Linked DNA regions of Homo sapiens. The protein of the gene in region 4 interacts with the protein of the main gene of each other region in a biochemical or structural test. Each region holds a gene or a part of one and is shown on either strand. Other genes may lie near its edges. The genes, in order: PDGFA, PKD1, MAG and COL2A1.

The links.
Region 1: the proteins of COL2A1 (region 4) and PDGFA form a complex in vitro, tested with the Homo sapiens proteins (one study listed by BioGRID).
Region 2: the proteins of COL2A1 (region 4) and PKD1 form a complex in vitro, tested with the Homo sapiens proteins (one study listed by BioGRID).
Region 3: the proteins of COL2A1 (region 4) and MAG form a complex in vitro, tested with the Homo sapiens proteins (one study listed by BioGRID).

Annotation. Positions count from the first base shown.
Region 1 is NC_000007.14:509,836-516,869, reverse strand, and holds part of PDGFA (platelet-derived growth factor subunit A isoform 2 preproprotein), read left to right. Parts: intron 1-4,414; coding exon 4,415-4,519; intron 4,520-5,873; coding exon 5,874-6,061; intron 6,062-7,034.
Region 2 is NC_000016.10:2,088,208-2,090,932, reverse strand, and holds the end of PKD1 (polycystin-1 isoform 1 precursor), read left to right. Parts: coding exon 1-49; intron 50-124; coding exon 125-259; intron 260-342; coding exon 343-648; exon of another isoform or gene 649-738; coding exon 739-1,206; 3' UTR 1,207-2,225; downstream 2,226-2,725. Other genes in the region: TSC2 (tuberin), read right to left, coding at 2,323-2,487, 2,608-2,706. UniProt on the Homo sapiens protein: Component of a heteromeric calcium-permeable ion channel formed by PKD1 and PKD2 that is activated by interaction between PKD1 and a Wnt family member, such as WNT3A and WNT9B. Both PKD1 and PKD2 are required for channel activity.
Region 3 is NC_000019.10:35,302,141-35,309,174, forward strand, and holds part of MAG (myelin-associated glycoprotein isoform a precursor), read left to right. Parts: intron 1-307; coding exon 308-568; intron 569-7,034. UniProt on the Homo sapiens protein: Adhesion molecule that mediates interactions between myelinating cells and neurons by binding to neuronal sialic acid-containing gangliosides and to the glycoproteins RTN4R and RTN4RL2.
Region 4 is NC_000012.12:47,973,443-47,980,476, reverse strand, and holds part of COL2A1 (collagen alpha-1(II) chain isoform 1 precursor), read left to right. Parts: intron 1-414; coding exon 415-468; intron 469-912; coding exon 913-966; intron 967-1,718; coding exon 1,719-1,880; intron 1,881-2,078; coding exon 2,079-2,186; intron 2,187-2,359; coding exon 2,360-2,467; intron 2,468-2,823; coding exon 2,824-2,877; intron 2,878-3,049; coding exon 3,050-3,157; intron 3,158-3,321; coding exon 3,322-3,375; intron 3,376-3,557; coding exon 3,558-3,665; intron 3,666-3,909; coding exon 3,910-3,963; intron 3,964-4,406; coding exon 4,407-4,514; intron 4,515-4,871; coding exon 4,872-5,160; intron 5,161-5,614; coding exon 5,615-5,802; intron 5,803-6,145; coding exon 6,146-6,388; intron 6,389-6,923; coding exon 6,924-7,034. UniProt on the Homo sapiens protein: Type II collagen is specific for cartilaginous tissues. It is essential for the normal embryonic development of the skeleton, for linear growth and for the ability of cartilage to resist compressive forces.

The DNA.
Region 1 (7,034 bases), on a different chromosome or scaffold from region 4:
CAGAAGCCGGTGTCTTTCTGTTTTCACGACCCAATGAAAAGCCTTGGACGCATCTGCTGCCTGGGGGCTATTTTTGCGGCTCACCCTCGGGCCCTGGGGCCGGGCCACTAGAGAACACAGCTTGTTTGCAAGCACAGAGTTTTGCTGCGGGTTGGCAAGGGTTAAAGGGGCCTCTCACCCCGGGGGACCCCGGTGGACCACGGGTGGGTGGGAGGGGCGAGGGTGTAGGGTGGCCGCCCGCCCGCTCAGGGCTAGAGAGCCCCTTCCTAGAAGGCGAGGTCTCTCTTCCAGGCGTGCGTGGCGCTCTTTTCAAAATGAGCACTCGGCCTGGGAACTCCAGTCGGAGCCTTAACCTGGTTTAAAAAGGGGCTCTGCGATGAACTTGTTAAAAAGAGTAACTAAAGGCAGCAGAATTGGAAGAAGTTACGTGACATGAAGATTCTTCTCTCCCTGCAAAGGACTCTGAAAAAGGGGGGGCATGCGGGGATTAAGTGAAATCACATGGTCTAGTCATTTGGAAATTTGTACCTAATTATGGTGGTGGAGAGGCCTGAACTATTTTCGTTTCATGCCAAAACCATTTTCTAACAAGGCCGATGGTTTCTGTAGTTTCTTGACCCAGGAAATCCCTGGGCTGATCCTTATCGGGGGCGGAGGGTGGGGGGTGCGGTAGAGTTTCACTCCCACAGCACAGCTGGGCGGGGGGATTTTGACCGGATCCCTCAGTGGATAACTCTAGGGAAAAGGATCTGGCTCTGGTTTGTGGGGGGGAATCCCTTGCCTGAATCTCGCTGGTCCTGGATGGGTTTGGAAAAGTGGGGGGGGGGGGCTGCTTCCTGGAGAAGGTTTCAGGGCTTTTTCTGGGGGGGGGTGCTAGCAGAAGGGGAGGCTTGTGGAGAGCTGGGCCTCCTCGTGGGACTGGCTTTGGAAGCTGCAGGGAAATGGGCCATTCACTTTCTGCTGGGACTATTCTTATTCTGGTCTTGGCGCCCCGCCTCCTCCACCCCCACCCATTATCGCCTTTAGCATTGCAGCTTCGTGGGGTATGCTGATGGCATTCCTCACCCGGGGGCTTCTAGGTCGTAGGGTCCGAACAGAAAAAAACAAGGATGCCCCTAAGCTAGTCCTGGCCGGTTTCAAATTCCCTCTGCAGTCATGTCCCAGGAGCTCTCTCCTCCTGCCCCAGGGAATGCAGAGTGGATCTCAGCCCTCCTGTGTCCGTGAGAGGTTTTGGGGTCTGAATAGGATTCTCCTAGTGTCTGGGAGGCTTTGTGTGTGAGAATATGGGGGTGGCATCTACCTCCTCTCTTGCCCCTGGTGGGGGACCTTTTGTAACATAGGGGGGCCTCCTTGGTCCTGTCCAGTCCCCTCCCCAGGTGTGGCTGAAAACAGAACCAGAGAAACCCACAGTCTCTCGCCTGAGGACAGGAGAGGCACCGGCTGCTCCTCCAGCTTGTAGGGGGTGTCTTTTCTTCAACTCCCGTTCTCTGTCGTAGGGAGGGTTGTAAACTGGTTGAGGTCAGTTCTCATTGGGTAAGCATCCCTCCGGGTCCTGGACTCCCTTTTCAATCCAGAGGTGCTTCTGGTCTGTTAGGGGCAGGGGACAGTGCAGGGGCTCATGAGGAAGGGGCTGGGTGCTGGGAGAAACCCAACGCAACGAACTTTCCCTCGGAGTCCCTTTATAACCCTTCCAGGCTGATGTTCTTGGCATTAGGTGCCTCTAAGGCCCACGCTGTAGGAAGCAGAAAAGAGGCTTTGAGGAATCCCAGGGGTGCGCCCCAGCTATGCTGACTCCTCCTCCAGGTGGGTGGGGCTTTGTGACTGGCATTTGGCTCCTCCCAGCATGCAGGCTGCGTCCCACTGTACAGTTGGGGAGACTGAGCCAGGCACCGTCTGGGGTCTTGGCCGCTCCTTGACTGTGGCTGGAGGAGCACGGGTAGTGGGATTCCTCACCATCCTCCCGGAGCCCAAGCGTTTCATTCGGAGGGTGTGCTGGAGTGAAGAGTGAAGGCTTTTCACCTGTGGCTTTTAGATCCAGAGGCCAGCATGTGGTCTTTTAATGACCGGCAGCCCGCGTTTAGGGCCTGTTTGTCCTGTGTGCAGTGGCAGCTGGGGAGCTTTGTTCCCCAAAGTGGTCTGGCCTGGCGCCCGTGGTTCATTGAGCGGCTGATAACGTAAATAGCCCCATCTCGGGCCAGTAATGCCAGACCAGGACTGATGGTTGGGAGATTCTCCCTGTCCTGGAGTTGTCCTTGGGACATCTGTGCCTAAAAGACAAAAGGGAAAGCCTCCTGGTTAACTGTCCTGGGAGCAGTTTTAGGGGTGATTCTTGCCGGCCAGGCCACCTGGGCCTGGGCTGCTCAGAGCTGTGTTTGGTGAGCTGTGGGCGGCTTTGGTGAGCGTGGTCCACTCTCGGCATCTTGAGCTGGGAGCAAAGGGTGGGCTTGGTAGACTGGGAGCTATTCCCCCTCTGTCCCTTGTCTCAAGAAATTTGCCAGCTCAGGCTTTCTGGGGGTCAATGAGCTAGCACGGCTGCCGTCTTCTCTGTTTATTAAGCCAGGGCTAGAGGGTGGCGGGGCACGGGGACTGTGCTCTGTGGACGCAGACCACATGAGTCTCCTGCGAGCCACTTCTGGTCCTGTTATATTTCTCTGGGCCTCAGTTTCCTCGGATGTGAAGAAGTGATAGCACCCACCGCACACTCAGAAGCTAAGTCATTGGTAAAGCAGCTAATGCAAACGTGGCTATCACAAGGCATCGGAAAATGGGAGCTGGTGTTATTGAATTTTCTCCTACGAGTGGAGAACGGACCCGTTACTCTTTGGTTTGGCCATGGCAAGATGGCCACCACCAGGATGTGATTCATAAGTGTCACTTTTTCATGAAAAGAAATGCTGCTTGTAACAGTTGGTTGATGGGAAATTCTTACTGCATGAGTAGTTCTGTTCTGATCTTATTTTGGGTCTCAAAAAAAATTAGTGTCATTGGAACATTGAGTCATTTTCGGTAAAAAGTTGGGCTCCGGGCGAGCTTCGTCTTTGCCTGACACCTTCTGTGAGGTTTGCGGGCTTCATTTTAAATCCGCAGGCTCCTCGGGGGTGCGGAGGAAGCTGAGGTTTCTCCGGTTGGTTTGTGGATAGTCACGGATGCCTCGATGGGCTGGGGAGAGACACTTTGGGCTGCTAGTCCTGAACCCAGGAGGTGCAGAGCCCATTAGCCGTCTGGATTGGTGACCGGGACTTCCCAAGCTTCCCAGGAGGGGGCAGGGAGATCTCTGTGCCTCTGGAGCATCCTGGCTGTGAGGCTCACTGTCTCCGCGCCTGTTCACCCTTGGTTATATGGTGGGGGGGGCAGGATGGAGGGAGATGGGAAGAGACTCCCCAGCTGGGACCAGGGGGCCAAGGCAAGGAGGCCCAGAGCCACCCGCGGTGCCCAGGTGCGGGCAGTGTGTCCATGGGCAGGACTGTGGGTCCTCTCCCTACTGCGGGATTTGGAGAGACCTGAGACTCCCCCAGCCTGTCTGCTGTAGCCGTCAGCGCCTGTGAAGGGGTGGTGTGTGCAGCTGGGTGGGGTGGCGGGGATAGGTTCTCAGTTCTGCTCCCCGGTCAGTGCTGGTCTTGGCTCTGGGCCACTGCCCCACCTGCACCTGGCCGCCTGGCTGTAAACACGGCTCGCAGATGCCAGCTTCTCTCAACCCCTCTCCGCAGGCCGCCTCCCTCTGTCAGGCTGCGGGAACTCCTCCGTGTAGCCTCCACGAGAGGCCACGTGCCCTCCTGCCTCTCCTCATGGCCGCTGGCCCTAGAGTAGACTCATTTCAGGAATGAGTGGGGTCTGGCCCGCAGCCCAGTCTGGCGGCTTCCAGTGCCCCTCAGAGGTTAGGCCACTTCTTCCAGGAGTGCTTTAGTGAGGGGGAGGGAGGGAGACGTACAGGCACCTGCAGAAATCTCAGCGGCCTCTGCTTCTCCCTCGCTCCAGCCCCCAGACAGAGGTGGGGCCTGGCTTAGCCCTGTGCCCCTCGGGGAGGTGCACGGAGCTGGGCGGCCTCAGGCCCCTCCTGCCCCGGGGCAGCCCTCACCTGGGCTACCTTGGAGGAGGCACCGTAGGGGAGACCACCTGCAACCTCTTCCCCGAAGGGCCCTGCGCTTCGTCACGGGCCCCTGAATGTGGGGACCTCTGTGCTAACGGGGCGTTTTCTGCGGTTTCCAGTGTTTCATGCCCTGCATCTCTGGAAAGCCCTGGTGGGAATCGAGGTTCTCCTGGAGGGCCCCTAATGGCGGGAGCTGTGAGGGGCTGTGCCGCCAGGTGCCTGTTCCCCAGTGGCTCCCAAAGCTGGTCTGTGGGAAGTGCGGCTGGACAGGCCCAGGGCACAGCGCACGGGCCTGGGGCATTCACGGTGTTCTCCTTCCGCCTGCAGGGAGTGAGGATTCTTTGGACACCAGCCTGAGAGCTCACGGGGTCCATGCCACTAAGCATGTGCCCGAGAAGCGGCCCCTGCCCATTCGGAGGAAGAGAAGCATCGGTGAGTCCAGGAGGCCGCGATGGGCAGGGCAGGGCCGGGTCAGGGTGAGTCCAGGAGGCCGCGATGGGCAGGGCAGGGCCGGGTGGGGAGGAGCTGCCCGCTCTCCCAGCGCAGTGGCCTCAGGCAAGCCACCCGTTCCCTCCTCCCTAAAATAGGCCTGGCCCTGGTGCCTCTGGCTCTGGCCTCTCCCGAGGCCTCCCTCCTTCGAGGGTGTCTCCTGCCCCAGCCCGCCTGCTCCTCCTGGAGTCCTGGTCTGGGCCAAGAGAGCTTCCAGGAGAGAAGAGCCATCATAAATTCCTTAAGCGCCCTGTCTTGTCGGGGCCTGTCCCCAGGAGCCTTGCCGGAAACGTGGTCGCGCCTAATTTCCAATTCGCAGTGTGGGCATCGTGCTCCTGCGCCGGCTGCTGAACTGGTGGGGACGCGCGTGCTGTGTCCGGCGGCTGCCCCCCGACACCCTCACCACACCCGTGTGCCCCGCCCCACTCACACCTGGCTCCAGGGCTCCACCCCCGCGTCCATTTGGGGGATATTTTGTCCCTTCTTACAGGACAGCCCCATGGCCCTCCAGCCCCCTGAGGAGGAACTAGCAGGTTTGGGGAGTTCAGGGGCCAGTCCCTGCTTTCTACCCAAGTCCCGCGTCCTCGGGGGTCCCACCTGATGGGTTTGAGCCCTGGTGCTGCTCATGGCTCTGGGGCCCTGAGCAGGTGGACCCCCCTCTCTGAGCTGTGGTTTCCTCCATGAAGATGGATTTTGTATCTTCCACCTTAAAGTGTCATGTGTGGCTGGCTAGTCCCAGCTGATGCAAGCAGGCCCTCCCCAGGTGACATTTGCTGTGGGGTCTGCATTTTGCACCCTTCAGACCACTTTTGAAGGCTAGAGCATGCAGCAAGTGCTGTAGGATTCACTGTTAAGGCCCCCTCCTCCCCCAGCCACTGGCCCCACCTGGACTAGGTTCCCCTCTGCCCCTGCCACCCCCAGTCTCTGGCCCCACCTGGACTAGGTTCCCCTCTCCCCACCCCCAGTCTCTGGCCCCACCTGGACTAAGTTCCCCTCTCCCCACCCCCAGCCACTGGCCCCACCTGGACTAAGTTCCCCTCCCCTCCGAGCCACTGGCCCCACCTGTCCAGGTCCCTCCAGCCTGCAGGCACCGGGCTGGGCTCCTCTGGATGTGTGGTGCTCCTGCCCACCCAGCCCCTAAGCCTCTGCTCCCAGCTCAGCCTCTGCTGCCTGGGAGGAATCCTGGCCTGTGGCTTACCCTGGTTGCCCCCCAGGCCCAGCTGGAGCCGCCTCAGCCCTGGGGTGGGGCCGTGGTCGCAGAGGCCGGTCCCCGCTCACTGTGCCCCCGCCGTTGCAGAGGAAGCTGTCCCCGCTGTCTGCAAGACCAGGACGGTCATTTACGAGATTCCTCGGAGTCAGGTCGACCCCACGTCCGCCAACTTCCTGATCTGGCCCCCGTGCGTGGAGGTGAAACGCTGCACCGGCTGCTGCAACACGAGCAGTGTCAAGTGCCAGCCCTCCCGCGTCCACCACCGCAGCGTCAAGGTGAGCCCTCCCCTCCCCTCCCCTCCCCTCCCCTCCCCTCCTCTCCTCTCCCCTCCCCTCCTCTCCTCTCCCCTCCCCTCCTCTCCCCTCCCCTCCCCTCCCCACCCAAGCCCGGGGCCGCCCCTACCAAGCAGCCAGGGTCCCTCCTGCATCCACCACCACAGCGTCAAGGTGAGCCCTGCCCCTCCCCTCCTCTCCCCTCCCCTCCCCTCCCCTCCCCACCCGAGCCCAAGGGCCGCCCCTACCTAGCAGCCAGGGTCCCTCCCGCGTCCACCACCGCAGCGTCAAGGTGAGCCCTGCCCCTCCCCTCCCCTCCCCACCCGAGCCCGGGGCCGCCCCTACCAAGCAGCCAGGGTCCCTCACGCATCCAACACTGCAGCATCCAGGTGAGCCCTGCCCCACGCAGGCCTGAGGGTCGCCCCTACTGGGTTGCCAGGGTCCCTCCTGGGAGGCCACAAGGTGCCCCTGGTGTGGCTGGTGGGGGTGCACGGCTGCGCTCCCATCTCCCTGGCAGGTACACTGAGGCCCAGGGAGGAGAAGGAGCACCTGGGGGTGCGGGAAAGGCAGGGCCGGCCGGGGCTTCTGCTCTGCTGCTCTGGCGACGAGCCTGGCCTCCTTTCCACGCCCTAGACCACAGTGCGGGGGCCGTTTTGGGCCTTGCGAGGTGTCGAGCTGCTTAGCCGGAAGCTGTCTGGCGTCCCCGGGCCCTGGAGGGTCCTGTGCGGGCTCTTCAGTGGGGGCCGAGGTGCATGGCAGGAGGAGTAGGGGGTGGATATTCAGAGCCTGCATTGCCTTTTGAAGTGCCTGACCTTTGGAGGGCCCCCCCGGCTTCCCCCCTAAAGCAGCCCAGGAGAAGGAGAAGGAGTGCTTGGGGTGGGCTCGAGGCCAGACAGCAGACTTCCTTCCATAGAATCCCAGGGTGAGCCCCTCTTTCTTTAAGTTGGGGGTGGTGCCTGCCTTCTTCAGGCTGCTT
Region 2 (2,725 bases), on a different chromosome or scaffold from region 4:
CGCAGCCCGTGGCCTGGCGGCCTCGCTGCTCTTCCTGCTTTTGGTCAAGGTGAGGGCTGGGCCGGTGGGCGCGGGGCTGGGCGCACACCCCAGGGCTGCAAGCAGACAGATTTCTCGTCCGCAGGCTGCCCAGCAGCTACGCTTCGTGCGCCAGTGGTCCGTCTTTGGCAAGACATTATGCCGAGCTCTGCCAGAGCTCCTGGGGGTCACCTTGGGCCTGGTGGTGCTCGGGGTAGCCTACGCCCAGCTGGCCATCCTGGTAGGTGACTGCGCGGCCGGGGAGGGCGTCTTAGCTCAGCTCAGCTCAGCTGTACGCCCTCACTGGTGTCGCCTTCCCCGCAGCTCGTGTCTTCCTGTGTGGACTCCCTCTGGAGCGTGGCCCAGGCCCTGTTGGTGCTGTGCCCTGGGACTGGGCTCTCTACCCTGTGTCCTGCCGAGTCCTGGCACCTGTCACCCCTGCTGTGTGTGGGGCTCTGGGCACTGCGGCTGTGGGGCGCCCTACGGCTGGGGGCTGTTATTCTCCGCTGGCGCTACCACGCCTTGCGTGGAGAGCTGTACCGGCCGGCCTGGGAGCCCCAGGACTACGAGATGGTGGAGTTGTTCCTGCGCAGGCTGCGCCTCTGGATGGGCCTCAGCAAGGTCAAGGAGGTGGGTACGGCCCAGTGGGGGGGAGAGGGACACGCCCTGGGCTCTGCCCAGGGTGCAGCCGGACTGACTGAGCCCCTGTGCCGCCCCCAGTTCCGCCACAAAGTCCGCTTTGAAGGGATGGAGCCGCTGCCCTCTCGCTCCTCCAGGGGCTCCAAGGTATCCCCGGATGTGCCCCCACCCAGCGCTGGCTCCGATGCCTCGCACCCCTCCACCTCCTCCAGCCAGCTGGATGGGCTGAGCGTGAGCCTGGGCCGGCTGGGGACAAGGTGTGAGCCTGAGCCCTCCCGCCTCCAAGCCGTGTTCGAGGCCCTGCTCACCCAGTTTGACCGACTCAACCAGGCCACAGAGGACGTCTACCAGCTGGAGCAGCAGCTGCACAGCCTGCAAGGCCGCAGGAGCAGCCGGGCGCCCGCCGGATCTTCCCGTGGCCCATCCCCGGGCCTGCGGCCAGCACTGCCCAGCCGCCTTGCCCGGGCCAGTCGGGGTGTGGACCTGGCCACTGGCCCCAGCAGGACACCCCTTCGGGCCAAGAACAAGGTCCACCCCAGCAGCACTTAGTCCTCCTTCCTGGCGGGGGTGGGCCGTGGAGTCGGAGTGGACACCGCTCAGTATTACTTTCTGCCGCTGTCAAGGCCGAGGGCCAGGCAGAATGGCTGCACGTAGGTTCCCCAGAGAGCAGGCAGGGGCATCTGTCTGTCTGTGGGCTTCAGCACTTTAAAGAGGCTGTGTGGCCAACCAGGACCCAGGGTCCCCTCCCCAGCTCCCTTGGGAAGGACACAGCAGTATTGGACGGTTTCTAGCCTCTGAGATGCTAATTTATTTCCCCGAGTCCTCAGGTACAGCGGGCTGTGCCCGGCCCCACCCCCTGGGCAGATGTCCCCCACTGCTAAGGCTGCTGGCTTCAGGGAGGGTTAGCCTGCACCGCCGCCACCCTGCCCCTAAGTTATTACCTCTCCAGTTCCTACCGTACTCCCTGCACCGTCTCACTGTGTGTCTCGTGTCAGTAATTTATATGGTGTTAAAATGTGTATATTTTTGTATGTCACTATTTTCACTAGGGCTGAGGGGCCTGCGCCCAGAGCTGGCCTCCCCCAACACCTGCTGCGCTTGGTAGGTGTGGTGGCGTTATGGCAGCCCGGCTGCTGCTTGGATGCGAGCTTGGCCTTGGGCCGGTGCTGGGGGCACAGCTGTCTGCCAGGCACTCTCATCACCCCAGAGGCCTTGTCATCCTCCCTTGCCCCAGGCCAGGTAGCAAGAGAGCAGCGCCCAGGCCTGCTGGCATCAGGTCTGGGCAAGTAGCAGGACTAGGCATGTCAGAGGACCCCAGGGTGGTTAGAGGAAAAGACTCCTCCTGGGGGCTGGCTCCCAGGGTGGAGGAAGGTGACTGTGTGTGTGTGTGTGTGCGCGCGCGCACGCGCGAGTGTGCTGTATGGCCCAGGCAGCCTCAAGGCCCTCGGAGCTGGCTGTGCCTGCTTCTGTGTACCACTTCTGTGGGCATGGCCGCTTCTAGAGCCTCGACACCCCCCCAACCCCCGCACCAAGCAGACAAAGTCAATAAAAGAGCTGTCTGACTGCAATCTGTGCCTCTATGTCTGTGCACTGGGGTCAGGACTTTATTTATTTCACTGACAGGCAATACCGTCCAAGGCCAGTGCAGGAGGGAGGGCCCCGGCCTCACACAAACTCGGTGAAGTCCTCCACCGAGGAGATGAGGCGCTTCCGCTGGCCCACCTCATAGCCAGGTGTGGGCTCGGCTGGAGTCTGTGCAGGGGCTTTGCTATGGGACGGAGGGTGCACCAGAGGTAGGCTGGGGTTGGAGTAGGCGGCTTCCTCGCAGATCTGAAGGCAGAGGCGGCTTGGGCAGTAAGTCTGGGAGGCGTGGCAACCGCTCTGCCCACACACCCGCCCCACAGCTTGGGCAGCCAGCACACCCCGCTGAGGGAGCCCCATATTCCCTACCCGCTGGCGGAGCCGCTTGATGTGGCGGAGCCGGGCAATCCACTTGGAGGGGTAGATATCGGTGGGGTTGGAGCGGCTATGATGCACCTGTGAGGCCATCTGGGGACGTAGGCAGGGG
Region 3 (7,034 bases), on a different chromosome or scaffold from region 4:
ATCACCCCTATGAGGTTGGAACTATTATGAAGCCCATTTTCCAGATGAGAAAAATGAGGCCCAGAGAGGTTAAGATGTGGGTCCACACACAACTGGACAGGGGTAGAGTAGGGATCTGAAGACAAGCATGCTGGCTACCAAGCTGCTGTTCTTGGAAATGAGATAGCCAGGACTGGGGTCACCTGAGCCTTCCTGAACCGGTGTGCTAGGTTTGGGGTGGGATCTGGGGTCATATCTGGGGATGGTAGTTGGCTGGCAGAAGAAGCACCTCCTGGGTTCTGACCATCAGTCCCGTCCTACCCCGCAGATGCACCCTGGAAGCCAACAGTGAACGGGACAATGGTGGCCGTAGAGGGGGAGACGGTCTCTATCTTGTGCTCCACACAGAGCAACCCGGACCCTATTCTCACCATCTTCAAGGAGAAGCAGATCCTGTCCACGGTCATCTACGAGAGCGAGCTGCAGCTGGAGCTGCCGGCCGTGTCACCCGAGGATGATGGAGAGTACTGGTGTGTGGCTGAGAACCAGTATGGCCAGAGGGCCACCGCCTTCAACCTGTCTGTGGAGTGTGAGTACCTTCCGCTCCCCTATGCTGGGGATGGACGGTTCCGTGGGGGACACCAGGGTTACTGTGGGTGCCCACGCATCCCAATCAGTATTGGCTTTGCCTGTCCTCCGCAGAGACAAGGAAGGGAGGGCAGGGAAGCTGAATTCACAGCAGGAAAATAAAATCCCATCTGAGAATATTGTGTTCCCACATCCGGGAGTGGGCTTTTTTTTTTTTTTTTTTTTTTGAGACAGAGTATTGAGTCTTGCTCTGTCACCTAGGCTGGAGTGCAGTGGCAGGATCTCGGCTCACTGCAATTGCTGCCTCCTGGGTTCAAGCAATTCTCCTGCCCCAGCCTCCTGAGTAGCTGGGATTACAGGCGCTCGCCACCACACCTGGCAAATTTTTGTATTTTTAGTAGAGACGGGGTTTCGCCATGTTGGCCTGGCTTGTCTCAAACCCCTGACTTCAGATGATCTGCCTGCCTCAGTCTCCCAAAGTCCTAGGATTACAGGCGTGAGCCACCACGCGCAGCCTGGGGTGGGCTTTTGACCAGTGAAATTTCTGGATCCTGTGGCCACTGCCCCTCTGCACTAACCGAAACAATGACCATGATCTCTAACCTGTGTAGAGTGTCGCTATGTACCAGGCACTGTTGGAAGCGCTGTACAGCAACCCACTCATTTAATCCTCATGACATCTTCATGAGGGAGGTTCTATTACTGTTTCCCTGTTTACGGAGAAGGAAACTGAGACCCAGAGAGGTTATGCCACTTGCCTAAGTTCCCACAGCCAGGAAATGGCAGAATTTGAGGTTTGAATCCAGGCAGTCTGGTTCCATTCTTCTTCCCTGCCCAAGGCTGACCTCATCCTATGTTATGACAGCAGAATACATTGATGGGGTAATTGCTATACACAAAAGGCTGTGCGGCTCTGTGAGAGGTGGAGGATAGGGCTGAGAAGACACCACGCTTATGAACAGGTACAGAATAGCTGGAGAGATGACACAGATGCACATAAAAAGCTACTGTCTTGGAAATGAAACTCACCATTGCACCGCTGGCCAGCGCCTCTCATCTCCTCACTATGGACTGTGCCACCATCTCCCACCACCCCTACCCCCACAGCCATCACTCCAGGTTGTAGCAGCCAAGTCACAGTTTTGACTCCCCTTCCTTAAGCAATTCCCTCTGGAATATCGCCTTCCTGTTTCCATTTCCCCTGCTTCCTCCCAAGTTCCTGTTGGCTTCTAGCACTCCTCCCCAAATTTCACCTCTCTGGTCTTCACGATGCCCACAATGGCCCCCACCACACAAGTTTGCCAGAAGGTTCGATGACATTCAACATGCAAAGAATTCAAAGCAGTGTCTGCTACACAGTACATGCTCTGTGCTGTGTACATGGCGACAATCAGTACATGGCAGATACAGGTTAGTCCTCGGGGGCAACCTCTCGTGGCAAAGCCGTCCCTCTCCTGCTGACCTATAATCTTCAGGCACTTTCCCTCCTGGTTCTGTTCCCTAGCGGGGCTGATGTGATCCTGGCGCGGGGCTGCGTGGTCCCCTGCTCCCTCCAACTGTGCGTGCTATCCTGGGCCAGCTTCCCCCTCTGGTTGTCCCCTGATCCCTGTTACACCCCACACCAGTGATTCTTCAGTTTAAGAGTCAGAGAGAGGAGCCGATGGGAGTACTTGAACAAGCCTGCAGCACCAACTCACATACATTTTCCGGTGGGGTGCAGATCTCTCCTTTATAGTAAGAGCAGCAGGCAGCAAATGCGCGTTAGGGGCCTGCCCTGGGCCAGACCTTGAATCCTCTACAGCTGTTTTCTGGTTCAGTTCTTATTTTTATTATTATTATTATTTTTTTTTTGAGACTGAGTCTCGCTCTGTCACCCAGGCCAGAGTGCAGTGGCACGATCTTGGCTCACTGCAACCTCTGCCTCCCAGATTCAAGCGATTCTCCTGCCTCAGCCTCCCAACTAGCTGGGATTACAGGCATGCGTCACCATGCCCAGCTAATTTTTTATTTTTAGTAGAGACGGGGTTTCTCCATGTTGCCCAGGCTGTTCTCCAACTCCTAGTCTCAAGTGATCCACCCGCCTCGGCCTCCCAAAGTGCTGGGATTACAGGTGTGAGCCACCATGCCCAGCCTATCTGGCTCATTTTCAATTCTAGGGTCACCCTGTGAAACAGGGGTGTGTTATAATTATCCCCTTTACCAAGGAGAAAACTCAAGGGCGGAATTCCCTGAGGCCAGGCAGCTATAAAAGTGGGTCCGAGCCCGATAATTCCAGACTCCTGTCTGCCCCAGCTGTTAAACCTCTGGCTGCCTCACCTCCCTCACAGCTCTTAGCACTCTAGGACTCAATCCGGCTTCTCTTGAAAACGAACACGCAGGCAGATGTGGAGTGTGCAGGCCTCACCTGCTAGACTTGAGGGGAGCAGTGGCCCTGTCCCCTGCCCCACCTGCCAGCTCCCTACTCTTCACCCAGGCCTGTGTCAAAGTGCTTGCCCTTGGAGAGTGCGACCCTCAGGCCCCCTCCCTCTCCACACAGTCAATGTTCCCTGGCACCAGGTCTCCAATGTTCACTGACAGTGGTGGTGACCCTTGAGCAGGGCCTTCTGTCTTACCTGCCAACCCCAGAGCCCTGAACGGCACGGGGCATGCAGGAAGTGTGCAACCTTACCGAGTGCCTGAGATGTCTAGGGAACTAGCTTGAGTACGTTGTACGCATTGACCTATTTTGTTCTTACAACCATGTGATTGAGGGGAGGGTACCATTCTTCAACCCAGTTTAATACAAGGAAACAGAAGTTTGACTGGCATCCAGTCCCAACAGGGCTGAACAGACCTGGGCTAGAATCCCAGCTCTGTCCCCATCCTCCTGCCTGAGCTCAGGCGAGTGACTTCAGCTTTGCAACCCTTAGCAAGGGTTCATAACAGTATCTTACCACAAAGATGGCTGTGAGAACTAAGAGAATTAGGCTGGGCGTGGTGGCCCACACCTGTAGTCCCAGCACTTTGGGAGGCTGAGACAGTTGGATCACTTGAGGCCAGGAGTTCGAGACCAGCCTGACCAACCTGACAAAACCCCATCTCTACTAAAAATACAAAAATTAGCCAGGCGTGATGGCGCACACCTGCAGTTCCAGCTACTCAGGAGGCTGAGGCAGGAGAATCGCTTGAGCCCGGGGGGTGGAGGTTGCAGTGAGCTGAGATGGAGCCAGTGCACTCCAGCCTGGATGACAGAGCAAGACTGTCCCAGCCCCCCACTCCAGCCTGGATGACAGAGCAAGACTGTCCCACCCCCCCACTCCAGCCTGGATGACAGAGCAAGACTGTCCCATCCCCCCACTCCAGCCTGGATGACAGAGCAAGACTGTCCCACCCCCCTACTCCAGCCTGGATGACAGAGCAAGACTGTCCCATCCCCCCACTCCAGCCTGGATGACAGAGCAAGACTGTCCCACCCCCACACTCCAGCCTGGATGACAGAGCAAGACTGTCCCACCCCCCCACTCCCCCACAAAAAAGAAGAACTAAGAGAACAATACTGAGTGTTCATAGTGCTACATACTCTGTGGATATTGGATGTCATCATCTTTCTCACTGATTTTTCCTTTGGACTCCAGGTTAAATATTTGTTGTGTGTTTTGCTGCTGAGGTTTTGCTCATGTGACCTCTCTGCGGGAATGGTTCTGTCTATCCACCCATGAGTACTTGGGTGGGATGTTACGTATTTTTAATTTTAATTTTTTATTTTTTTGAGACAGGGTCTTGCTCTGTTGCCCAGGCTGGAATGCAGTGGTTTGATCATCGCTCACTGCAGCCTCAACCTCCTGGGCTCAACTGATTCTCACACTTCAGCCTCCTGAGTAGCTGGGACTACAGGCACACATCACCATGCCCAGTTAATGTTTTAATTTTTTGTAGAGATGGGGTCTTGCTCTGTTGCCCAGGCTGGTCTCAAACTCCTGGGCTCAAGTGATCCTCCTGCCTTGGCCTCCCAAAGTGCTGGAATGACAGGTGTGAGCCACTGCACCCGGCTGGGATGTTAAGTGTTTACAACACACTTGCGCGCCTATCTTCGGAGTCCCGTAGCCCCTTGTGAGTTACTGACTGTAACCCCCTGGTTTGCACAGATGAGAACTCCATCCTAGAGGCCCAGGAGCCTGAGTGGCCTCACCCAGCCAGTAGATGGCAGAGCTGGGATTCAAGCCAAATCCATCCCACCACAAACTCCTCATTCTTTGTACCTTTGTCTTACAGGTTTGTCTAGAGTCCCATAACAGTTTCCGCAGCTTCACAGGTTGTCTGAAAAGATACTAAGCACGTGCACCGGCAGGGTGTCGGCGTTCCGCCGACATCCAGGTCGAACACTTTGTCACCAGAGCACCAGTGGGGCTGTCTTGAGTGGAAGTGCTTTGAAAAAGTTTTATGTCTGTCGGTTCAGGTTCGCTGTTATTAATGTACTCCGTGGCGTGTTAGCTGGTTAACGCTATAGCAAGCATATTGCAGCTCTGCCCGAACAGGACTTTTTATTCAGTAGACTTAGAGATGTTTGCACAGAGGTTCCCATTCCTGCCGTGAATCCGTGTGCCCGTGTGACTCCCAGGTCCACCACCGTTACCGGCACATTCTTTTTGCTAGCAATTGAAAATAGGTGGGGTAGGTGAGCCAAGGGTCTCTTGCCTGTGTGTAAGTGGGTTTTGGTGAGAACTCACTGAGAACCAGTGCTCAGTCTAGAGCAAGCCAAGGAGGGTGCTGGACTCTCAGGCCAAGAAAGAGAACACAGTTTAAAAAGCAGCATTCTGTGCTGTAATACAATTGCGTATTTTGGTACAAAAATTAGCCAGGCATGGTGGCACGCACGTGTAGTCCCAGCTACTCAAGAGGCTGAGGCAGGACAATCACTTGAACCTGGGAGGCAGAGGTTGCAGTGAGCAGAGATCGTGCCACTGCACTCCAGCCTGGGCGACAGAGAGACTCCGTCTCAAAAATCATAGTAATAACAATAATAATAATAATAATTTCCTGTTTTGGAAAATGAAAGAAAAAACCTACCAGTACTATTTTTGTAATCCAGTGGCAGCAAAGCAAAGCTCAACCAAGTGACTTTGGGTGGAGGGTGGTGTTTGGTGCTAGTGGCAGGAGGGAATCTCATGGGTGAGGAAGGGCCGGGGTTCAAGGCGGCTTTAGGGGAGGAAGTGGGGGGCATCTGCAGCGCAGACTGAAAGGAAGGAGCACAGCCTGGAAGCCAGAAAGGAGGGGATAGTCTAAGCCTGTGTGAGCCCCAAGGGTCTGGGGAGGCCGGGGGCTGGGAGAGTTCCATGGTTCCTCCCTTCTACGTGTGGGGCCCAGAGTGGAGAAGGAGCAAGCCCCTGTCTTGATGGAAACAGGAGGCCCCTTATGTAAGTGTGTGATGCAGGGAGGGTGAGTGCTGGGGAGGAGAACTGAGTGAGGCAGGGAGTGAATGATACGTGGAGCGAGGTGCAGCTTCCCTGGGTGGTCAGAGAAGGAGACGCCGCATGGGTAGAGGCCAGTTTGGAGCGAGGGAGGGCGTTCCACAGGCAACTGATGGAAGTGTTCCAAGTTGAGGGAGAAACGTACAGACCCTGGAGTGGGAGAAAGCTCCACGATTTTCAGACACAGCAAGGAACCGGTGTGGCTGGAAAGGACTAAGCCAGGGGGAGAGAAGGAGAGAGTGTGTGGTCAGGCAGGGCCTGAGGGGCCTTGTAGATGAAAGACTTTGTATTTTGGGCTGGGCACAGTGGCTTGCGCCTTATAATCCCAGCACTTTGGGAGGCCAAGGCAGGAGGATTGCTTGAGCTCAGGAGTTCAAGACCAGCATGGGGAACATAGCAAGACCCTGTCTCTACAAAAACAAACAAAAACCCTCCAGTAACTATCATGAGTATGACAGATTTACCGTCCTCTGCAATTCTGAACATAAAGCTTTAAAATCAAAAGGCTTTTTGCAAATTTGGCACCACCCTGATTTGACAGCAAAATCTCGCCTAAAGAACACAAGGCTGTTTGTAATCTATACTGATTTCATTTAGGGTGAATATTCGTACTTTTTGCTGTATACATTACATTGAACTATGTGAAATTTTTTCTGCATGTCAAAAATGGTCAAATGTGGCTGGGCGCAGTGGCTTATGCCTGTAATCCCAGCACTTTGGGAGGCTGAGGCGGGAGGATCACTAGAGGCCAAGAGTGCAAATGAGCTATAGTACTGCCACTGCACTTCAGCCTGGGCGACAGGGCCAGACCCTGTCTCTAAACGATAAAAAATAAAGGATTTGTATTTTAGGTGAACCACGGAGCAACAGAAGGAGGGTTTTGAGCAGAGAGTGCCATGATCTGATTTATGTATTACAAGGTGAATGAGGTTAGAGAGAGTGTAAGAGCCAGGGCCCAGGAGAAACGGCCCGTCCCTGTGACATAGTGCTCTGTCCAGGCTGAAGCTGAGGCTAGAGTCG
Region 4 (7,034 bases):
TGCGCAGAGGATGGTTCGCAGGCCTGGGAACACCCCCATGTTGGTAGAAGGAGCTTCCATGTGGCATGTGGGCTGTGTGGGTGGGGTGTAGGGACTGACAGAGTACAGGCTGGCCACAGCCAGCCAGAACCAAGCTGCTGATCTCCTGGGGAGGAGGGGGCGGTGGCAGGAAGAGCTTCCCGGGAGGCCAGACCCCAGACCGGTTCTGTGGTTGCCTGACAGGCTTCTCCTAGAACACAAGTCTCCTGTGGCAGAGGGGACAGAGCTGCCTGTGGCAGCCTCTTCAGGCTGGGTTTTTAGTGCCAAGAAAGCTGCATCTTCGAAAACCTCAGGGGTCCATTGTTGGGGCTCAGACAGAAGCCCACCGTCTTCCTTGGGCCACTGGGCCTCACTGTCTCCCTCTTTCCTTTCCAGGGTCCTACTGGAGTGACTGGTCCTAAAGGAGCCCGAGGTGCCCAAGGCCCCCCGGTGAGTGAGGCCTCTGACACCCCACCCTGCACCTCACAAAGAGGCCTGGCCCCAGAGGCTCCCATGGCGGGGGTGTTCTGGGATGCCCCCGACTGTTTTCCCAGCCCTGCGTTGGTCCCCAGCCTAAGCCCACCCACAGCCAGGTGGGAGAGAGGGCGCCTGTGGGCTGGGTGCACTGTGGTCCCGGATTCCCCAGCCCGAGGCTTGTCCCTCGTTCAGCTCCCTGAAGTGCTGACTGTGGAAACCGGAGGCAGGGAAACAGCCTGTGCCTGCTTCTATGACCAGACCCGGGGGCCCTTTCTCCCTCCCTGGATCCCCCTTGCTGCTTTGCAGTCCCTCGCCCTTTCCATACCAGGCTCTGAGACCACCCCCGCCCCCCGCCCATTTTAATCTCAAACCTCCTGAGGGCTTGAGGTTCTCAGGGGCTCTCCTCTCCCCACACAGGGAGCCACTGGATTCCCTGGAGCTGCTGGCCGCGTTGGACCCCCAGGCTCCAATGTAAGTGATGCTCCTGGCATGAGAGGCACAGGCAGGCATGGAATAGCCTGGCCCAGCACCCAACAGGGTCTGGAGAGCTCCAGGCTGGCCTTCACTCCTCTGAGTCCGTTCCTGCCCCCTGGAGGAGTAGCTAACTGATCATGGGGACCTATCCCCTGAGGGTGGCTGGGGGCAGGGTTGTGGCCCTGCTGTCAGCAATGGGTGGCTGCCCTGCTGGCTTGGTGGGCAGGACAGGGCTGCCATGATTACCTTCATCCTGGACAGATGTTTCTTGAGCATGTTCTGTGCACTTGTCTGTGTGCTTTAAAGCAAGTCCGCATGTCCTGGGTCGCTCTCAGGGAGTTTGCATGGAGGGAGCAGTGGTGATGAACTCACTGGGTTCACCAGCGCCATAGGCAGAGGGAGAGAGTGCTGGGGGCAAGCTCAGGGGTCAGAGGGGCAGGGCTGGAGCGGCTCCTGAGGAAGGGGGATTGAGGACAAAGGGAGGAGGGAGGAGAGATTCCAGGTAGATGGGAGAAAGCAAAGCAAGCAGGAGCTGGAGAAGTTGGGGCTGTCTGCCCAGAGCTGTCTCACATGGTGAGAAGGTTGCAGCGGTAGATTGGGGTTGGGGGGGTTAAGCTGCCTGCCCTTAGTGTGGGGAGGTAGAGAAGCCCCCAGAGAGGAAACTGCTGTCACTGAGGCCACAGTGACTTTGGCAGCCTGGATGAGGAAGGGTGAGATGAGTCCTCACTTCCCGCATTTTCTCCTTCTAGGGCAACCCTGGACCCCCTGGTCCCCCTGGTCCTTCTGGAAAAGATGGTCCCAAAGGTGCTCGAGGAGACAGCGGCCCCCCTGGCCGAGCTGGTGAACCCGGCCTCCAAGGTCCTGCTGGACCCCCTGGCGAGAAGGGAGAGCCTGGAGATGACGGTCCCTCTGTAAGTCCCTCACCAGGCCCATGCCAAGGTCCCTGGGAGCAGGGTCGTGAGTGGCTTCTGAGCTCACAGAGCATGGGGTAGGAGGGAGCAGGGGCCGTGGGGATGCCAGGGAGCGGGGCTGCACAGACAGAGCTGTGCTGAGAGGACAGAAGAGGCTGGGCCACTGTCAGTTCTCATCTCCTGCCTCTCCTCTCTCAGGGTGCCGAAGGTCCACCAGGTCCCCAGGGTCTGGCTGGTCAGAGAGGCATCGTCGGTCTGCCTGGGCAACGTGGTGAGAGAGGATTCCCTGGCTTGCCTGGCCCGTCGGTGAGTGTGGGGTATCCCTCCCTCCATCCAAGCTGGGCCCTGCCTGCCAAGGCTTCTACCTCCCTCAGCACCCTCAGGACTGTCCCTTGTCTGCCCTCTCCCTGAAGGGTCAGTGGGCCCTGGGCAGGGGTGCTTACCACTTGCACTCATCATCCTTGTCTCTGTCCCTCCAGGGTGAGCCCGGCAAGCAGGGTGCTCCTGGAGCATCTGGAGACAGAGGTCCTCCTGGCCCCGTGGGTCCTCCTGGCCTGACGGGTCCTGCAGGTGAACCTGGACGAGAGGTGAGCAGTGAGACCCCCTGGGGTGGCCCTGATTGGGGAGAGGGGCCCTGTGAGTCTCTGTGCTGGGTCAGCAAGGACAAGTCCCAGTCAGGGCCCTGGAGAAGGGGGTGGCAGTGTCGGCCGACAGGCCTGAAAGCCTAGGTACAATGGGAAGGTTGTCGGGGAGAGAGACGGGCATAGAGACCAAGGGCTGCTTCCGGAAGGAGGAGGGAAACTTGGTGAGGAAACTTTGGCTTCAAAGTGTGAGTGAGTTGGGCAGAAGAGGAGAGGCCTGGGCTTCTGAGAGGGGCTGGGGGAGCAGAGGGGGAGATGGGCAGGAAGCAGCTCTAAGTGCATTCTTGTTTCACTTTGTCCAGGGAAGCCCCGGTGCTGATGGCCCCCCTGGCAGAGATGGCGCTGCTGGAGTCAAGGTGAGTGTCTGGTGTCTGTGTGTGCAGTGGGTTGGGGAGGACATTGCCTCGGGCCTGACAGGTCAGCTGGGGGTGGCAGGTTGGAACAAGTCTCATCTCAGCCTAGAAGGACCTTCTGTTCCTGTCTCTTCTGGAACATTCTTCTCTGAGCCTGAGACCTCTCTCCTGACAGGGTGATCGTGGTGAGACTGGTGCTGTGGGAGCTCCTGGAGCCCCTGGGCCCCCTGGCTCCCCTGGCCCCGCTGGTCCAACTGGCAAGCAAGGAGACAGAGGAGAAGCTGTAAGTATCCTGAATTCAGTAAAAGCCGCCTTCCCCTGCGCGGTGGGGCTGAGGCAGTCCCTGGGTTTCCGCAGTCTCTGGACTAAGGAGCAGTGGCCTCAGATGCAGAGGAGGCCCCCACCTGTCCTGGCTTTTCTCTGACGCTGCGCTCACTCTCTCCTCAGGGTGCACAAGGCCCCATGGGACCCTCAGGACCAGCTGGAGCCCGGGGAATCCAGGTGAGTATCCAAGTGTCCTGCACTGAGTCCCCACCAGGGATAGGCTGGGAGGGCAGCCAGCCTCCAGGTGGTTCCTGGGCCTCCAGCCCTGTGTTTCCGGGGATTCCTCAGCTTGGGTGGGACAGGAGGGGGCTCCTGTCCTGGCCCTGACCTGACTCAATCGGTGTCTGTCTTGTTCCCAGGGTCCTCAAGGCCCCAGAGGTGACAAAGGAGAGGCTGGAGAGCCTGGCGAGAGAGGCCTGAAGGGACACCGTGGCTTCACTGGTCTGCAGGGTCTGCCCGGCCCTCCTGTGAGTGTCACTGCCTGCGTGGGACTTCCCGAGGCCTCCTGCCACACAGAGCCCACTTGAGCTCCCTGTGCTGCCAGGACAGCTTGGGATCACCCTAAGCAGTTTCTAGGATTTCCTCAGGGCTGGAGGGAGGAGGAAGTGGAAAGGGAATGGGGCTGGGACATAAAGCTGTTCCCCCAGCTCCCAGAATATAGATAGATATGTCTGTGCTGACCGTGGCCTTTTGCCTCTTCCTTCTACACAGGGTCCTTCTGGAGACCAAGGTGCTTCTGGTCCTGCTGGTCCTTCTGGCCCTAGAGTAAGTGACATGGAGTTGGAAGATGGAGGGGGCCCTTCAGAGAGTGTGGGCCTGTGTTCCCATGGGGAGGGAAATGCTGCTGCTTCTGGGGAAGCTGTGGGCTCAGGGGTCCTCACTCAGTAATGGGGGCAGGACTGGCTCATGTGCCTATGGCCAGAAAAGCGCCTGAGGCCACAATGGCTGTAAGACAAACATGAATCAGCCTCTCGCTGTCAGACAGAACAGCATTTTACAAAGAGGAGCTTAGGAGGGTAGGCAAGCCATGGAGCTATCCTGCTGGTTCTTGGCCAAATAGAGACCAACTTAGGGTTCCATGACTGAGCATGTGAAGAACTGGGGGCGGAGTGGCTGGTGCTATCAGGACAGCCACCTACCCAGCCCCAGCGACTCCCCAGCCTTCCCTGTGGTGACCACTCTTTCCTCACGACCTCTCTCTCTTGCAGGGTCCTCCTGGCCCCGTCGGTCCCTCTGGCAAAGATGGTGCTAATGGAATCCCTGGCCCCATTGGGCCTCCTGGTCCCCGTGGACGATCAGGCGAAACCGGCCCTGCTGTAAGTGTCCTGACTCCTTCCCTGCTGTCGAGGTGTCCCTACCATCCGGGAGGCTTGAGCTCTTTTTTGCTCAGGGCCTCTTTTAGGGCATCAGCCTGCAGCTAACAGTGATGGCATCCTTTATCCTGAGGTCTCCTCAGAGGTCACAGGGCCCATGATCAGTGCTGGGAAACTGAAGAGAAGGGCTAAGGAAGAAATAGACATGGTGCTGTGGTTTCCTTGGTCCTCGCCTGCTACACCTCCGCCCCACCCATGGGGCTGGGAAGAGGGACACTCTAGTACATTCTAGCAAATGGGGATGGACATGGAGGGGCACTTTCACACAATCCTGGCTGATCTCTCTGTTTCCTGCTGCAGGGTCCTCCTGGAAATCCTGGACCCCCTGGTCCTCCAGGTCCCCCTGGCCCTGGCATCGACATGTCCGCCTTTGCTGGCTTAGGCCCGAGAGAGAAGGGCCCCGACCCCCTGCAGTACATGCGGGCCGACCAGGCAGCCGGTGGCCTGAGACAGCATGACGCCGAGGTGGATGCCACACTCAAGTCCCTCAACAACCAGATTGAGAGCATCCGCAGCCCCGAGGGCTCCCGCAAGAACCCTGCTCGCACCTGCAGAGACCTGAAACTCTGCCACCCTGAGTGGAAGAGTGGTAAGCTTGGAGAACAGGATCCCCTGCCCCGGGAAGCAGGGAGTCATCCCTTAGGCCTAGCAGCAAGGGAGGAGATGCCCCCTAGTACAGGGCAGAGCTGGGCCTGGAAGTTTCCGCCAGAGGGTTCCTCTCTTATTTCACAGCAGAGAAGCTGCAGCCCTGGCCCCTGTCCTGCCATGGCTACCTGGCCGAGGTGACCTCAGGGTGGACTCCATCCACCAGCTGGGCACTGCTTCTGCTCTCTTTGCATGTGTTCTTCCTTAGGGCTGGACTTAGCTCATGCAGATCTCCCTGCCCCTGCATCCTCCCAGGTCCCCCTCCTTTCAGGCCACATGTGAACCTCATCCCTTGTCCCTGTAGGCCTCTCTGTCTCTTTCAGTCAGGCCTGGGTCTCTCAAGCTTTTGTGTCTGTGCCTGTCTGAGCCCCCATGGGTGCTGCCTCTTCCCCCTGCAGGAGACTACTGGATTGACCCCAACCAAGGCTGCACCTTGGACGCCATGAAGGTTTTCTGCAACATGGAGACTGGCGAGACTTGCGTCTACCCCAATCCAGCAAACGTTCCCAAGAAGAACTGGTGGAGCAGCAAGAGCAAGGAGAAGAAACACATCTGGTTTGGAGAAACCATCAATGGTGGCTTCCATGTGAGTACCTGGGTGCCCTAGATGATGAGCAGAGATGGCTCCTCAAACTCTTTCTTTTCTTTCTCCCTGGAAGCTTTTAGCACCTTCCCCATATTTTCCTCCAGTTTTCTGTTGGGCTTGAGAGGAGGGAAAGAGGAGGAAAAGTATTTTTTCCCCACGTGGAGGTGGGAAAAGAGGTCCTCTGAGCTTGCTCCACTCCTGGAAGCAAAAATGTCCAACTAGCTCCCTGCTGCCCCAGTACCCTTGAGGTCCTTGAACCATGAACTCTTGGCAGCCCCTACAGCCCCTGGTCCCATTGAATGCCAGCTCCCAGGCCTCACACTGCCGCTCTCTGCCCCAACAGTTCAGCTATGGAGATGACAATCTGGCTCCCAACACTGCCAACGTCCAGATGACCTTCCTACGCCTGCTGTCCACGGAAGGCTCCCAGAACATCACCTACCACTGCAAGAACAGCATTGCCTATCTGGACGAAGCAGCTGGCAACCTCAAGAAGGCCCTGCTCATCCAGGGCTCCAATGACGTGGAGATCCGGGCAGAGGGCAATAGCAGGTTCACGTACACTGCCCTGAAGGATGGCTGCACGGTGAGTGGGGCTGCCAGAGAGAAGAGCTGCCTGTGCCCAAACCGCCTGGAGCAGGGCTGAGGGTTGGCCCGCGGCAGCTGTCAGGTCCTAAAGTGACAGGATCATCAGAGGCATGAGTTTGAGGGTCATGTAGAGAAGATAGGCTGAGTGACAGGTGAGAGAGAGGCACATATCATTCCATCTTCTCCATTCCCCTGGCTCAGGGGAACAAAACCCTACCTGGAACCCAGTGACTACTGTAGAAGTGTTCTCGCAATGTGTACAGGGTGAAGAAGCGGTCACAGGTTGGGAGCTCACTGTGGGGAGTGGGGAAGGAGGGGAAGGGCAGGGTGGAGAAGGGCCCTGCCGCTAAGGATAGGAGTTGAAGTGGAGAGGCCTTTGGCAAGCCAAGAAGAGGTCTCAGGAGCCCCCTCAGTGTGGTTCAACCTTGTGGGCTCTGATGCTCGCCAGTTTGTTCAGTTTTGGGCTTCTGGGCAGCTGGAACTGGGTAGCAAGGCATCTACTGAACAGAGCCTCCTCCTTTTTTCTCCCCTAGAAACATACCGGTAAGTGGGGCAAGACTGTTATCGAGTACCGGTCACAGAAGACCTCACGCCTCCCCATCATTGACATTGCACCCATGGACATAGGAGGGCCCGAGCAGGAA